2 linked regions of the Homo sapiens genome follow. The protein of the gene in region 2 binds, or shares a complex with, the protein of the main gene of each other region. Each region holds a gene or a part of one and is shown on either strand. Other genes may lie near its edges. The genes, in order: NME7 and TUBGCP2.

Region 1 (8,044 bases), on a different chromosome or scaffold from region 2:
CTTATTTTACAGACTAGGAAACTGAAAATTAGAGCAAGAAAAGCAGTAAACCAAGAAAAGAAGCCTGCACAATACCAGCATCTGAAAGGACAAGTGAAGGAAGAAAAACCAATTAGTAAGACACAAGTCATGGTCTCCAAAGACAGTATTTTCAGGAATGATGAAAATAATGCTAAATTTTAACAATTGCTCACAAATGAGTAGTCAAAGATAGCTGAGGAATGAAAATAGTGAGTATAAGTCTATGTTTTGGTAAAATCTGGAAAGATGGAATGAAAAATTAGACAATAACTAATAGGAATTCAAGGTAAAGAAGAGGCTGTTTGGGGCTGCATAAGTTTGGGGCTGTGATGTTTTTCAATTTTTTAAGACCTGTGGTCTTTGCTTCTTCACATAAGCTCATTTTCCAGCTACAATATTTTTCCTTAATTCCTAGAGCCACCTAACATAATGTCAACAACACTCACTCTTCCCCAGACAAGGGTAAAAAAATATATATCCTAAAGGGTTCATACAAATAATAGGATATTTCAGGAACTAATGGCAGAAAGAGGTTAAAAAAATTAAATGCACAAAATATAAACGAATATGTTTAAGACATTTCTTTAGGTGAAATGGCAATGGTAGCTGCTCTGGATTGGATGTTTGTTCCTTCCAAATCTCACGTTGAAATTTGATCCCCAATGTTGGAGATAGGGCCTAATGGGAGGTTTGGATAGTAGGGGTAAATCCCATGAATAGATTAATGCCCTCCCTCCAAGGTGAGCGAATTTTCCCTCTATTAGTTCCTCTGAAAGCTGGTTGTTAAAAACAGCCTGACACCTCTCCCGGTGGCTTGCTTCTTCTCTTACCATGTGATCTGTGCACACGCAGGCTCCCTTTTACCTTCCACCTCAGGCAGTGGAAGCTGCCTGAGACCCTCACGAGATGCAGATGCCCAATCTTGATGTCCCAGCCATCAGGACTATGAGCCAAATAAACCTTTTTCCTTTATAAATGACCCAGCCTCAGGTATTCCTTCACAGCAACACAAAATGGACTGAGACAGTAGCTAACTTAACAAAAGTTGCTCCACTACAAGATATGCTAAAATCTAACAAGTATATTTATGCTCAAATTTATTAAATAATCTAGTAGAAATAAAAAAGAAATGGATGGCATAAGGTGGTAATAGGGTGAAATAGGCAGGAAATATCAGTAAACATGGTAGTGACTTTCAGTTCAGCCTCAATTATTTCCTTCATTAATTAGATATGTTTATTATTTTTATAATGCTTTAAAATATGATTGGAAATTTAACTATACAAAACAATACCACATTTACAATAAATGTCTACTACTAAGATATGGTCAAAGACTATAATTGCTCTCTTGCATGTATCTTTAACTTCCTTAACACTTCCGTCACATTTGTTTCACAAAACCACAGCCATGGTTAAAAGCCAGCTCTCCACCTACTCCTTACCTTCAGCCATGCAGTTGAACAGGCTGGAGAACCACACTCATAGTTCATGGCCATGAACACTACATGGGCCATTAATTCAGTATAGCAATCACACACCACATTTCCCTGATCTATTCCTTTTCCAGATCACCATTTCACATATTCTTCTCTCCCTTCAGACCAACCAATACCTTATACCTCATCCTCACTTTCAGCTGTTTTGATCTTGCTTCCTACTTAAGAATCAGCATCTGTGTTCACATATTCTCCCTTCCCATCTGTTGCTATAGACGAGTACCTGAGAGGCACACCTGCCTAATCTCTCCACCTGGGTTCTAATTTCCATTTCCTTTTGCCTAATTAATGAAATTGCTCCAACAAGTCTTCCTCTTTTTCCTACATCATCAATTTTTTACCCAATACCTCTCCTCTTAAAAAAAATTGATACTACTTTTCTTGACAGCTACCACCTCATCTCTTTGCAGGAAAACTCCTCAAAAAAACTCCTCAAAAAAAAAGTTGTCTATATTCACTAACTACAATTCCCGTCCCACAATTTTCTTTTAAGTCTACTCCACACAGGGTTTTGCCTCCACCTCCCCATCAACATTCACCTTACAAAGTTCACCAATGATATCCACATTGCAAAATTTAACAATCCATTCTTAGTCCTCTTCTTACTTGCCTTATTTGACACCACTGGTCATTCTCTCATTTTAGAATATTTGATTCACTTGGCCTCCAGGACATAATTATCTCTCAGTTTTTCCTCTTACCTCTCTGGTGGCTCCTCTTCAACCTCCTTTGCTGCCTTCTTCTCCTTACCTTTTATCAAGATGTAGCTTCATCTTTGGTCCTCTTTACTTCTCTATCTATACCTTCTCCTTGGTAATCTCAACCAGTCTCCCGGCTTTAAATACCATTTATGTGCTGATAACTCTAAGCTGTCACACTAATTTTTTTCATCAGTCTAATTGGAAAACTAACAAACAGGTTAAGTTTATAAATGTCCAAAACGTTAACTCCTGATTGTCCATTCATTCTGACTCTAGCCACAGTTTTCCTCATTTCAGTTTACGTAAATTCTATCCTTCTGATAATCAGGCTAAGAACTTTGGAGTAATACTTGGTATCTTTTTCTCATACTCTACATTCAATCTAGCAGAAAATCTTGTTTATTTGACCTTCAACCGTTAATATATATTTTAAAATATATTTGTATACTTCTTTCATTATTACCACCCAGGTCCAAGCCATCATCTCACTGGGTTATTCCAACAGACTCCTGATTAGGCTCCCTGTTGCTGTTTTTGCCCTCTATAGTCATTCTTTTTTTTTTCCCCCGAGATGGAGTCTCACTCTGTCACCCAGGCTAGAGCACAGTGGCATGATCTCAGTTCACTGCAACCTCCACCTCCCTGGTTCAAGCAATTCTCCCACCTTAGCCTCTGGAGTAGCTGGGATTACAGGTGGGCGCCACCACACCCAGCTAATTTTTGTATTTTTAGTAGAAACAGGGTTTTACCATATTGGCCAGGCTGGTCTCGAACTCCTGGCCTCAAATGATCTGCCCGCCTTGGCCTCCCAAAGTGCTGGGATTACAGGTGTGAGCCACCACTCCCAGCCTCTATAGTCATTCTTAATGCAACAGCCAGAATGATCCTTTTAAATGGCAAGTGGAAGATATCAGTCCTTTGTTCAAAACCCTAAAATGGCTCTCTATTTTTTCAGAGAAAAATCTAAAAGTACTACTACGGCCTATAAGACCATATAATCTTTCCCCTAATTACCTCTGTAACCTCATCACCCTCTTCCTCCCTCTCTCATTCCTATCCAACCACACTGTCCTCTTTGCTGTTAGTTGACCATTCCAGACAGAAATATGCTATTCAAGGAATAGCGAGATGGTTAGTGTGCCTGGAACACAATGATTAAGATAGAGATTGATCAAAGATACAGTTAGAGATAGATATGGGCCAGACTAGATAGAGCATTGGAGGCCACAATAAAGACTTTAGATTTTATTCTAGAAGAGACAGAAATTCACTGAAGGGTTTTCAGCAGGTGAATGTTAATCTGATTTGTCTTTAAAAGATCACTGGGCATAGCTGATTTTACTTGGGTAAGGTAAAATTTTCATTAATTGAGTGTAAGAAAAGAGGAAAAAAGAATTTGGAGGCTATTGTAGCAGTTCTGGCAAAATATAATAGTGATTCAGACCACAATGATCAGATTCAGGGTTTATTTTGAAAGAGCTGAAGGGACTTGCTGATGAAATGGTAGGAAAAAGAAAGAAATCAATTATAAAACTGTCTAATATTGTTTCATTGCAAACACAACCAGATTAAAAACTACCTTAAGTGAGACACTTCTCACGATGCTAAAAATAAACTTACACTTCTTTAATTCAACCTCAGTATAAATCCAATAAATGCTTTATTTATATGGATTTAAAAATAAGGAGTAGAGAAACTTTCATAAACACTAGCTATATATAGGAAAATAATAGGATGTTAAGCTTGAAAGCACAGTGTTACGTCTGAATCAAAAGGAAATATCTCAAATTATATCTTCTTTTTAATATCTACTAGCCATAAACTGGTATTCTTACATGAATTCAATAATTCAAACATTTAGGAGCCTCAGTAATTTAAGTCTTGGGAACAAGAAACAGGATGAGAAGTGTTTTAATTGGAGAAAACTTACGTTGATCATGATCAGGTTACCAGTTCACAAAGGAGACACACTGAATCACTGTTTGATAGTAGGCAAGATGTCAAAGGTTTTCTCTACTACTAGAGCAGCAGCATAAATCCACCCTAAGTCACCAGTGATAGAAATGCTTTCCTTTGATATAAAACATTTAACAGAACTAGAAGAGCATTAAAATATTTTTAAAACACCTTACTCTGGCCGCAGAAGCAAAAGAATCAGGGCCATGCGCTGCATTTCTTATGCCATCTGTTCCAAAGAGGGCTCTAATGCTTTCAGAAGCATCTGTGCGTGCCACTCCAGAGTTTGCAGGTCCCAGCAGTCTTTTCCATTCACATATAGCATCATCTCTTAAAATCTCCATGGCAATAATAGGACCAGTTGTAATAAACTGGATCAGCTCACTACAAAACAGATAGAAGATTAGTTTGCTTCTTTTTTCTGTCAACTAGGTATTTGTCTTAACGACAGGATATATTTAAATTGGATTATTTCAACATAGACATGAATATTATAATCTTAGAACCATTAAGCATAGTTAATTTTACATGGGCAGGAGAAATTTTTCATAAATTGAGTGTCTTGCAGTGGCTCAATTCACTTCAAATCACTAGTAATGTCAAATTACTGTTACCAGAAAAATCACTGTTCTGTTGAATTAAGACTATTTCATGACTTAAAATGCATACTGTTGACCTATGCTTTTCCCAGTGCTCTAACAGGTACAGAGGATTTTCCTTTTTATTTACATGTGTTTACCACTGCAGTCAAGTACAATTTCACAATATATAGGGATGGATGCCTTGTAACATATTTTTAGTAAGAATTTATTTATTTTTGTGTAAAACTATTAGAATTCAAAGACTGACAAAGAACTCTCTTAATCAATAAACACTGAGCTGGTTTGGTGATAAAAAAAAAAATCCCCAGCAGGCTTCAAGAAATATCCTTTTATTAGCGTAAAAACTACTCTGGGTTATTTCTGTATTAAATTATTAAAGTGTACGCATCGGTTCTTGACTAAAAATCCAGCACTGAGTCACAGTCCCCCAAGGTATAAAAGACAATACTTCATTTTATTTTCTACTTTTATATGTGTACAGGATGCAATGACAAGTTTAACTATGAAATAAGTGACATCCTCCCTCTGACTATATTAAGCAGGGACACAGTACTTTTTAGAGTAAGCCCATGGTTTTCTCTCATCCAAAGTAGAGAGAAGAGATCCTCCTGGAGAAAGGAGCATGGTGTGACAGGCTCTTTTGTGCCCACTAACTTATGACTATTTTTTACACACTTCCTTCCACCCTGCATGTTATATGTCAGCTCCCCTCAGTACTTCCTTTTTAAAACACTCCCATTCATTTTGAAGAATATTTCTAAAAAACAGCATGTACAAAAAAGTATTCTTGTCTTCTATCCTAAGAGTTCTATAATACCTCCTCATACATTTTCTGCCAGACCTTTGCTGCCAAAACAAACAAAACCCCCAAGACCAACCACTAGATTTAAAAAAACCCAAATCAAAGGAGCAAACCATGTTTATTCACTCAATAAGCATTTAATAATTGCCTATAACATATCAGCGTCTGTGCCACAAAAAAGATCCCCCTTCAAGACACTTACAATCTAACGCCCTATTAATACAAAATTCTCAAAACACACAATTGAATAAGCCTATGAATATGGCATGTAACAATATAGGGAAGGATGTGCCTGATCATAGATACTGCTTCATGAAAATTTAATTACTTCACCTAGTCTTTTGTTACATCATTCTCATTAACAGGCAACTAGTTAATTCATTCCTTTAATAAAATTTACTGCATGCAAATCACACATAAATCATTAGACTAGGAGTTGTAAGTTAATGCTATAAACATATACAAAGTTTATACCAAAAGATAATTTCCACCAATTTTCTAGAAAAGTGTATATAGCTATTCTAAGAAGGCTTAGGAATATTTTATAACACTTGATTTGAAATAATCTATAGCATAATAATTTTCTTACATACAAATTTTTTTAAAAACCCACTACTCAGTGCAGGATATCAAATAACATGTCTACTGTGGCCATTTAGTTTGGCTGATGTAACATTCTTTCTTATTAGAAGTGTAAACAGTCTTTGGCAACAGTAATAATAATATGAGCATGCAAAATATTCACTTAAATTTAATTACATGTCAAATATTTAGAATACATAAAGTGTAACATATATTATCTGTTCTATGTCAAGGAACAAAATATATATCAAACTAGTTAAAATAGAAAGGTTCCATGAACATTGCTTTATGTATACAAGACTACCAAAATAGTTTAAAAGTACAACAGGCTACAGTAACCAAAACATCATGGTACTGGTACAAAAACAGACACATAGATCACTGGAACATAATAGAGAACCCAGAAATAAAGCCACACATCTACAGCCATCTGAACTTTGACAAAGTCAACAAAAATAAGCAATGGAGAAAGGATTCTCTATTCAATAAATGGTGCTGGGATACCTGTCTAGCCATAAGCAGAAGAAAGAAACTGGCCCCTTAACATTAACCATATACAAAACTTTACTCAAGATGGATTAAAGATTTAAAAGTAAGACCTCAAACTATAAGAATCCTAGAAGAAAACCTAGGAAACACCATTCTGGACATTGGCCTGGGGAAAGAATTTATGACTAAGTCCTCAAAAGTAATGGCAACGAAAACAAAAATTGACGAGTGGGACTAAAGAGCTTCTGCACAGAAAGCTTCTGCACTAGCAACAGAGTAAAAAGACAATCCACAGAATGAGAGAAAATATTCACAAACTATGCATTCAACAAAGGACTAATATGCAGAATCTGTAACGACCTTAAATAATCAAACAAGCATGAAACAACCCCACTAAAAAAAGAGCAAAAGACATAAATACACACTTCTCAAAAGAACATACAAGCAGCCAATAAGCATACGAAAAAACGCTCAATATCACTAATCATCGGAGAAATGCAAATCAAAACCACAATGAGATACCATTTCACACCAGTCAGAATGGTTATTATTAAAAAGTCAAAAAATAACATGCTGGCAAGACTATAGAGGAAAGAGAATGCTTATACACGGTTGGTGGGAATATTAATTACTCCAGCCATTGTGGAAAGCAGTGTGGATATTTCTCAAAGAACTTAAAACAGAGCTACCATTTAACCTAGCAATTCCATTACTGGGTATATACCCAAAAGAAAAGAAATTCTGCCAAAAAGACACATGCCCTCATACACTCATTGCTGTGCTATTCACAATAGCAAATACATGGAAATAACTCAAGTGCCCATCAGTGGCAGATTGGATAAAGAAAATGTGGTATATATATATAACACAGAATTCTACACAGCCATAAAAAAATAAAATTATGTCCTTGGCAATAATATGGACACAATTGGAGGCCATAATCCTAAACAAATTAATCCACAAACAGAAAACCAAATGCTGCATGTTCGCACTTACAAGTAGGAGCTAAACATTAAACACACATAGACACAAATTTGGGGGTAATAGACACTGTGGACTACTAGAGGAGAGAAGGCAGGTGGTTTGAAAAACTACCTATTGGGTACTATACTCACTACCTGGATGATGGGATCCATACTCCAAACCTCAGCATCACACAATATTCCCACGTAACAAATCTGCATGTGTACCCCCTGTATCTAAAATAGAAGTTGATTTTTTTTTAAAAAAAAAGTCAAAAAACGACAGATATGCTGGCAAGTCTGTAGAGAAAGGGAACACACTTATACACTGTTGATGGAAATGCAAATTAGTACCTCAACCACTGTAGAAAATAGTTTGGAGTTTTTTCAAAGGACTTAAAACAGAACTACCATTTGAACCTTAAATCCCA
Region 2 (8,044 bases):
GTGGTCAGAGAGCCTGCCCTCCTGCGCCAGTGGCCGCCAGAGGCTGATGGGGTCGGCCTGGGCTGGCCCAGCTTTCGGAAGCACTGACTCCCACTCAGGGCTGGTCAGGGACACGGGCAGATGCAAACTGTCTCTGCACGTGGCAGTAAGACCCAGTCTTCTGCCACGGCTGAGGGAGACGTGGACAGAGGCCTAGCACCATGTCCAGCACAGAACGTGCCCAGCAAGAACCGGCTGGGTCCTTGGGAGCCGCTGCACTCAACACGCACCCAGGAGGCTAGGACGCCTCAGGGACACAGCTCCAAAGGGAGTTTAAAGGTCACAAAGGCAGGAACGTGGCAGCTCTAATGAGAGAGACTGGGAGATGACTTACGTCAAAAGACCAGGGTAGGGCATAAAATCAAAACCAAGAGCAAGTAGCAAATACAGAAGGAATAATAAAAATTACTGTATTTTCGAGAATCTTGAAAATATAATGATCTGAAAGCATTCCCTCAAAATTGTCAAAAATTGGAGGAGGGAAATGGGGAGTCAGGATTGGGTAGGCTCAGAGTCACGTGGCCACCTGGCAGCACAACTCCCACGTGGGTCAGAACCTTGCTGCTATTGATTCTTGTGGTCCAGAATTCTTGGTTAAAAAAAAAACTAAACATATAGAGCTAGGTCATGATCAAGCATTAAGCCTTGGCCTCTCTAAGGGATTCATTTTCAATAAATGACAGAGAGACATGTCCTTCCAGCAGGGGCCCGGCACAGCACTGAGTGTGGGTGCCTGTGGACGCCACGGACACAGGACCTGCTGCAGCATGGAGCCTGTGGACAGCCATGGACGCAGTACCTGCTGCAGCGTGGAGCCTGTGGCCACGCTGCCAAGCTGCTTCCTCAGTTCCTCAAGCTCCTGCATGGAGATCTTGGAGGCCGCGGCAGGGACGTTGATGCTGGTGGTACTGCTGCCCACAGCAGCGGCTGCAAGCTCAGCTCTTTCTTTTGCATTCTGTTGTAAGTACTGCAGAGTCTGAAAACATGTAAAACTGTGTGTTCACACTGGGCCAGCACCTCTTTGGCCATAGGGGGAGAGTAGGGACGACACCACCAGGACGGCTCCCCAACCCTGACAGGCACCCATTAATAGCAAAGCGACGCGTGCGACAGGCAGGAACTGAGCGTGACACATGCGGGAAGCTCAAAGTGCCCCAGAGGCTGCTTCTCATGTTTACACCCAACATGGGTTATCTTTCATTCTGATTCACCAAAAATTTCCTACATGGCCTAGAAGCGTTACTGGTGTGAGCGAGGAAGAGCTGACAGGAAGATGGCGTGGAGTGAGCAGGAGACGCGACCCCACTCCCAACATGGGCCGTACGGGCGCAGTGTGGCACGTGGCATGGGCACCTACCTCTTTGTCTTCCGTGAGCTTTGACAACAGGTACACCAGCGGGTCAAGGTTCCTTGTATTTTTAGATTTCAGTTCATCATATTTCTTTAGAAAGTCTTCTGGAGTACGAGAAAACTCTGCAATTTTAACCTCAAAAGCACAAACATGAGTGATTTAATGACGGTAATTAATAAAGCACTGTAAAAAAAAACCTTTACGAAAATTGAACACAATAAGCCAATGGAATTAAATTGGGTAGGTTAAATAATTATCCCTCTGAAATAAACTAACAAAACTCATCTCCATATTGTGTTAAACTTATCCATGTTTTGAGCTAGGCAGTGGCTCATGACTGTAATCCCAGCACTTTGGGAGGCCGAGGCTGGTAGACTGCTTGAGTCCAGGAGTTCAAGACCAGCCTGGCCAAAATAACAAAACCCCATTTCTACAAAAAGATTCAAAAATTAGCGAGGCGTGGTGGCACTTGCCTGTGGTCACTACTTGGGAAGCTGAGATGGGAGGATCACATCAGCCTGGGAGGTTGAGACTGCAGTAAGACAAGATCGTGCCACATGCATTCCAGCCTGGGTGACAGAGTAAGACTCTGTCTCAAAACAAAACAAAACAAACCTTATCCGTATTTCCCATTATGGTTCCTTTCCTTTTGTGCTTCTTCGTATTATTTTAATTTTTTCTAGAGACAGGATTTCACCATGTTGCCCAGACTGCTCTCAAACTCCCAGGCTCAAGCCATCCACCTGCCTCGTCCCAAAGTGCTGGCGTTACAGGTGTGAGCCCCTGCGCCCGCCCTTTTATGCTTCTTCAGGTTTGTACTGGAGAGTAGCGACTTACACTTCCCCCCAGTAGTTTATGCGTTCATTGTATACATTTCACTGTATTCCCTTTTATGCTGCTTCAGGTTTGTACTGGAGAGTAGCAACTTGCATTTCCCCCCAGTAGTTTATGCGTTCATTGTATGCATCTCACTGTGTTCCCTTTTATGCTTCTTCAGGTTTGTACTGGAGAGTAGCGACTTACCTTTTCCCCCCAGTAGTTTATGCGTTCATTGTCTGCATCTCACTGTATTCCCCGCAGTAGTTTATGCGTTCATTGTATACACCTCACTATGTTCCCTCTGGAATTTGTTATTATGTGCAACCCTAGGGGTTATGCTTTTTCTTTTGGACGGAGTTTCGCTCTTGTTGCCCAGGCTGGAGTGCAATGGCGTGATCTAGGCTCACCGCAACCTCCACCTCCCTGGTTCAAGTAATTCTCCTGCCTCAGCCTCCTGAGTAGCTGCATTACTGGCACGCACCACCACGCCCTAATTTTTGTATTTTTAGTAGCGATGGGGTTTCTCCATGTTGGCCAGGCTGGTCTCGAACTCCCAACCTTAGGTGATCCACCCGCCTCGGCCTCCCAAAGGGCTGGGATTACAGGTGTGAGCGACCGTGCCCAGCAGGGGTTATGTTTTACTCAGTGATTTACAATGCTTCCTTCAGAATGAACTAAACATGGGTGTCCCCAAGTCTCTATTCCACTCGGCTAATTTGCCTAATTATCCTTGTGCCATTGTTAACCTGTTTAAATAACTGAAGCTTCATAATGTATTTTTTAAAATAGACTTCAAATTCAAAATCATTTTTACTGAAAATCTATACTTCTGAATTACATATTATCTGAATAAAGAAATAATACCTTAAAGGCATTTCAACATGGTTAATACCAGTCCCTCCCTTTTTTTTTTTTTTTTTTTTTTTTTTTTTTGAGACAGAGTCTCACTCTGACGCCCAGGCTGGAATGCAGTGGCACGATATCTCGGCTCACTGCAAGCTCCACCTCCCGGGTTCACGCCACTCTCCTGCCTCAGCCCCCCGAGTAGCTGGGATTACAGGTGCCCGCCACCACACCCAGCTAATTTTTTGTATTTTTAGTAGAGACGGGGTTTCACCGTGTTAGCCAGGGTGGTCTTGATCTCCTGACCTTGTGATCCACCTGCCTCAGCCTCCCAAAGTGCTGGGATTACAGGTGTGAGCCACCGCGCCTGGCCCAGTCCCTCCCTTTTTATCCACAGGAATGCACATGTCAGGACTCTCCCACCTCATGGCTGCAGGGGACAGAGTGGGGAAGAGGGAGGGTTCTAGGCCCAGCTTTCTCCATAGGCCTCCATTTACTCATCTGCACAGTGGGGTGAATCACAGGAGCTGCTGGGGGGAGTCAGGAGAATCAGAGCTGAACACACACACAGACCAAGTGCTGTCTGCCATCGTTGCCGGTACCATTGAGGCCACCCAGGAACGGGCACTCACCCTGCATCTTGCACGGTACACAGCCCTGCACCAGGGGCAGTGCTCACCCTGCACCATCCTGACCCCGGGGTGGCGCTCACCCTGCACCCCGCACAGCCCTGCACCAGAGGTGGCGCTCACCCTGCACCCTGCACCAGAGGTGGCGCTCACCCTGCACCCTGCACCAGAGGTGGCGCTCACCCTGCCCCCTGCACCAGAGGTGGCGCTCACCCTGCACCCTGACCCAGGGGCGGTGCTCATCATGCACCCTGACCCAGGGACGACGCTCATCCTGCACATGGACTGAGGGGTGGGTTCACCCTGCACCATCCTGATCCAGGAACAGTGTTCATCCTGCACCCTGACCCAGGGGTGGGCTCACCCTGCACCCTCACCCAGGAATGGTGCTCACCCTGTACCACCCTGACCCAGGAACGGCGCTCACCCTGCACCCTGACCCAGGGGTGGGCTCACCCTGCACCACCCTGACCCAGGAACAGTGCTCACCCTGCACAGCGCTACACCAAGGGCAGTGCTCACCTTGGCACTGTGAGCAGAGACAGTGGTAGTGACGTACGGGGTCCTGTTCTTTTGAAGCAGGTCAATGTAGACCTCAGCCCCATCTCCTCCGTGGACACGCAGCAGGCTAAGCAGTTCATTGACGTCATGGTGAATCCGAAATTCACTCATAGTTTTAGCTCTGAGGCACGAACATCACAATATGTTCTCCTATAGGTAAGAAGACAGCTATTCATAAAATTCAAACTGTAGAAATAAAAAACATTTTTTTAAACACTCAAGACTGGCCAATGTCAGGCTTTGACAAACCAAGTTATCACCTGGCCTGCCTGGCCTAGGGCCCCTCCCCCAACAGCCCAGCAGCCTCTCAGAGGGTCCTCTGCATGGGCCTGGGATTAGGGCCCCTGCCCAACACCCCAGCAGCCTCTCAGAGGGTCCTCTGGACGGGACTGGGATTAGGGCCCCTCCCTGAACTCCAGCAGCCTCTCAGAGGGTCCTCTGCATGGGCCTGGGATTAGGGCCCCTCCCCGACACCCCAGCAGCCTCTCAGAGGGTCCTCTGGGTGGGCCTGGGATTCACCTGCCTCCAGCTTCCAGGCGGCCTCCGCAGCTCCGGGAGCCAGCCCCGTGGGCAGCATGAATGGGGCCTGAGACCCAGGTTCCCTTTCCCCTGCACCTCCCTCCACACATGGGTCTGGGCCAGCAGGGAATGCTCTGCTGCTCGCCTCGGCTTGGGGACAGAGCTTTCTGGTCCCAGACGTGAGGCCTGTGGGGTCTACACAGGGAGCTCTGTGCAGGCCCAAGCCATTGACACTGTGCCAGCTACCGGCACACACAGTAACATCCCAGCTTCTACCGGAGAGGCCCACACTGGTTCTCAGAGCCCGCGGTGCTCAGCCGCAGCTCCATTCACTTGGCCGGCTCTGCGTTACTTTTTCACTCTGGTACCCGTGACATCTCCTTTTCTTGCCCAAGCGTGGCTACCGACAGAGACGCTTCTGGTAGGACTTCTACACGTTCCCTACACGTTTGAGCTAGGTGAAGTTCCACTGCAGCTCCAGCTGCCCCAGGGGCTCACCAGGAGACATATAACACATATGAGATCGAAGGCGTCACAGACACCCAAGTGGGCAGCAGAACACTGCGTGGGGTCAGGGTGTAGGGTGAGCCCACCCCTGGGTCAGGGGGCAGGGTGAGCGCCGCCCCTACTCTCCCACCAGTGGCTGCTCATTAGCCTCTGTCACCAAGAGTTCCGATACAAGGCCATTAAGACAAACACATGGCTGTGTGCAGTGGCTCTCGCCTGGAATCCCAGCATTTTGGGAGGCTGAGTCAGGTGAGTCACTCGAGGCCAGGAGTCAAGACAGCCTGGGCAACACAGTGAGACTCTGTCTCTACAAAAAATACAAAAATTAACTGGGCATGGTAGCATATGCCTGTAGTCTTAGCTACTCGGGAGGCTGAGGTGGGAGGATCGCTTGAGCCACTCCAGCCTGGGCGACAGAGGGAGACCCTGTCTCAACAAAAAACAAAACAAAACAAAAAACACAGGCAAGGCAACTGGCTATAGATTACAAAACAAATATAAGCAAACTTTACATGCTTCACAAACATTTCATCTACACAAGGGTTCTTAAGCCGGTATCCATGAGTAATCAGTAACAGATGAGCCCTTGAAAGTTATGGGCAAAATAACTTTTTATTTTCTGAGGAGATGACCCTTCAACAAATTCTCAAAGGCTCTATGACCCAAAAAAGGTAAACAACCACTCTGCTGACAGCTTCAGGGAGACAAGGATGAGCTCAACAAAACATCGAGTGTGGGCGGCAAGCCACCCAGGTGCCGAGGCAAGAGACCGAGGGCACGAGCTGTTCCAGTGTAACAAAATATATAAAACAACAAGAGTTATGCTAGATCTAGATCATAGATATGATTATATATGAATATCATTAATCATCAGTTTGTAGCAATTACTCTTTATTCCAATATTATAATAATCCTTGCTCTACAATCATAACCTAGGAAAAACCAGGCCATACAGAGATAGGAGCTGAGGGGACATAGTGAGAAGTGACCAGAAGACAAGAATGTGAGCCTTCTGTCATGCCCGGACAGGGCCACCAGAGGGCTCCTTGGTCTAGCGGTGATGCCAGCGTCTGGGAAGATGCCCCTTGCCAAGCGGACCTTGGTCTAGCGGTAGTGTCAGTGTCAAGGAAAAACACCCGCTACTTAGCAGACCGGGAAAGGGAGTCTCCCTTTCCCCGGAGAGTTTAGAGAAGACTCTACGCCTCCAACTCTTGTGGAGGGCCTGACATCAGTCAGGCCCGCCCGCAGTTATCCGGAGGCCTGACTGTCTCCCTGTGATGCTGTGCTTCAGCGGTCACACTCCTGGTCTGCTCTCATGTTCCATCCCGTACACCTGGCTCCGCCCTCTAGATAGCAGTAGCAAAATTAGTGAAAGTATTAAAGTCTTTGATCTTTCTGAAAAGAACATAGAAGAAATAATGACATAAGCTGTCCTCTCTCTCTCCGCCTCGGCTACGTAACAGGGAAGGGCCCCATGTCTGGTGGACACATGACACACATGACCTTATCAATCATTGGAGATGACTCACACTCTTTACCCTGCCCCTTTTGCTTTGTATCCAATAAATAACAGCGCAGCCAGGCATTCGGGGCCACTACCGGTCTCTGCGTCTTGGTGGTAGTGGTTCCCCGGGCCCGCTGTCTTTTCTTTTATCTCTTTGTCTTGCGTCTTTATTTTTACAATCTCTCATCTCCGCACACGAGGAGAAAAACCCACCGACCCTGTGGGGCTGGTCCCTACAATAGAGTACAGAAGACTCAGCACATACTCCCACAATATGCTAATTCACTAACGATTATTAGCACGGGACTCGACACCGAGATTCTAATCCTGTGTGATGGAAGACAGTTTATCTGTAGATGAACATCAAATACTGGTCACAGGCAGGGTATCTCCGAAAATGGAAGGAGAGCGATAAGAAGGCATGGTGCTGAGTTGCTCACACACATGCTTTTGACCCAGGAGGTGCTCACGGTAACTACAGTTCAAGCACAAGGCCAGCAGGGCACGCGCCATGGAGCCCCATGCAGTCTGGACACTGACGTGGCTACTTCTAGGCTGTGGGACCCTGAACAAGGACACGTCCTCTCCAAGCTTCTTCTGAAAAGGGGAAGCCCTAGGTCCTGCGTAGAGCTGTGGTAGAGAGAAGTGAAATCACCCTGAGAAAGCACAGAAGGGCCCATACGTGGTAAGTTCTTACACTGTTGTTACCAGGAAAGCAGAAACAAACATGCGGCACCATTGCTCCCTGGAGGTGTTAACTCTGTTATCTGGGAAATGGTTAGGTTTACAAAAGGAAAATTGGGTCCCAATCACTGACAACATCTTAAACTACCAGATGCTTTTTTAACAGTCATGGGAGCCCTGGACGAGGCCCTGCAAACTACTTGTGAAGCAGAAAAGACAGCCCAAACTTTCCGGCCAGCGGCCCCTTCAAATCCAAGGGTGGCCTGTTTCACCCACATTCTACTCGGCTCCCCGAGGACTGCAGGTTGTCCTATAACTGCTGGTCTGAGAAACACTTTGGTCATGCTAGGTGGCAAGAAAACCATTTGCCACCAAAACAAAGCACTCCCCCACCAGACACAAGTCAGGAGAGAAAGCTACCTATGAAGAAAAATCATCTGAGTATTTATTTAAAAACTACATGCTGGGCACGGTGGCTCACGCCTGTAATCTCAGCACTTTGGGAAGCCAAGGTGGGCGGATCATGAGGTCAGGAGATCGAGACCATCCTGGCTAACATGGTGAAACCCCATCTCTACTAAAAATACA

Evidence for each region.
Region 1: TUBGCP2 (region 2) and NME7 share a complex: the UniProt entries of both Homo sapiens proteins name them as parts of the gamma-tubulin ring complex.

The regions. Positions count from the first base shown.
Region 1 is NC_000001.11:169,294,204-169,302,247, forward strand, and holds part of NME7 (nucleoside diphosphate kinase homolog 7), read right to left. Parts: intron 4,561-8,044; coding exon 4,353-4,560; intron 1-4,352. UniProt on the Homo sapiens protein: Possesses an intrinsic kinase activity. Displays 3'-5' exonuclease activity with a preference for single-stranded DNA. Does not seem to have nucleoside diphosphate kinase activity.
Region 2 is NC_000010.11:133,298,589-133,306,632, forward strand, and holds part of TUBGCP2 (gamma-tubulin complex component 2), read right to left. Parts: intron 4,393-8,044; 5' UTR 4,354-4,392; coding exon 4,204-4,353; intron 1,526-4,203; coding exon 1,397-1,525; intron 1,016-1,396; coding exon 839-1,015; intron 1-838. UniProt on the Homo sapiens protein: Component of the gamma-tubulin ring complex (gTuRC) which mediates microtubule nucleation.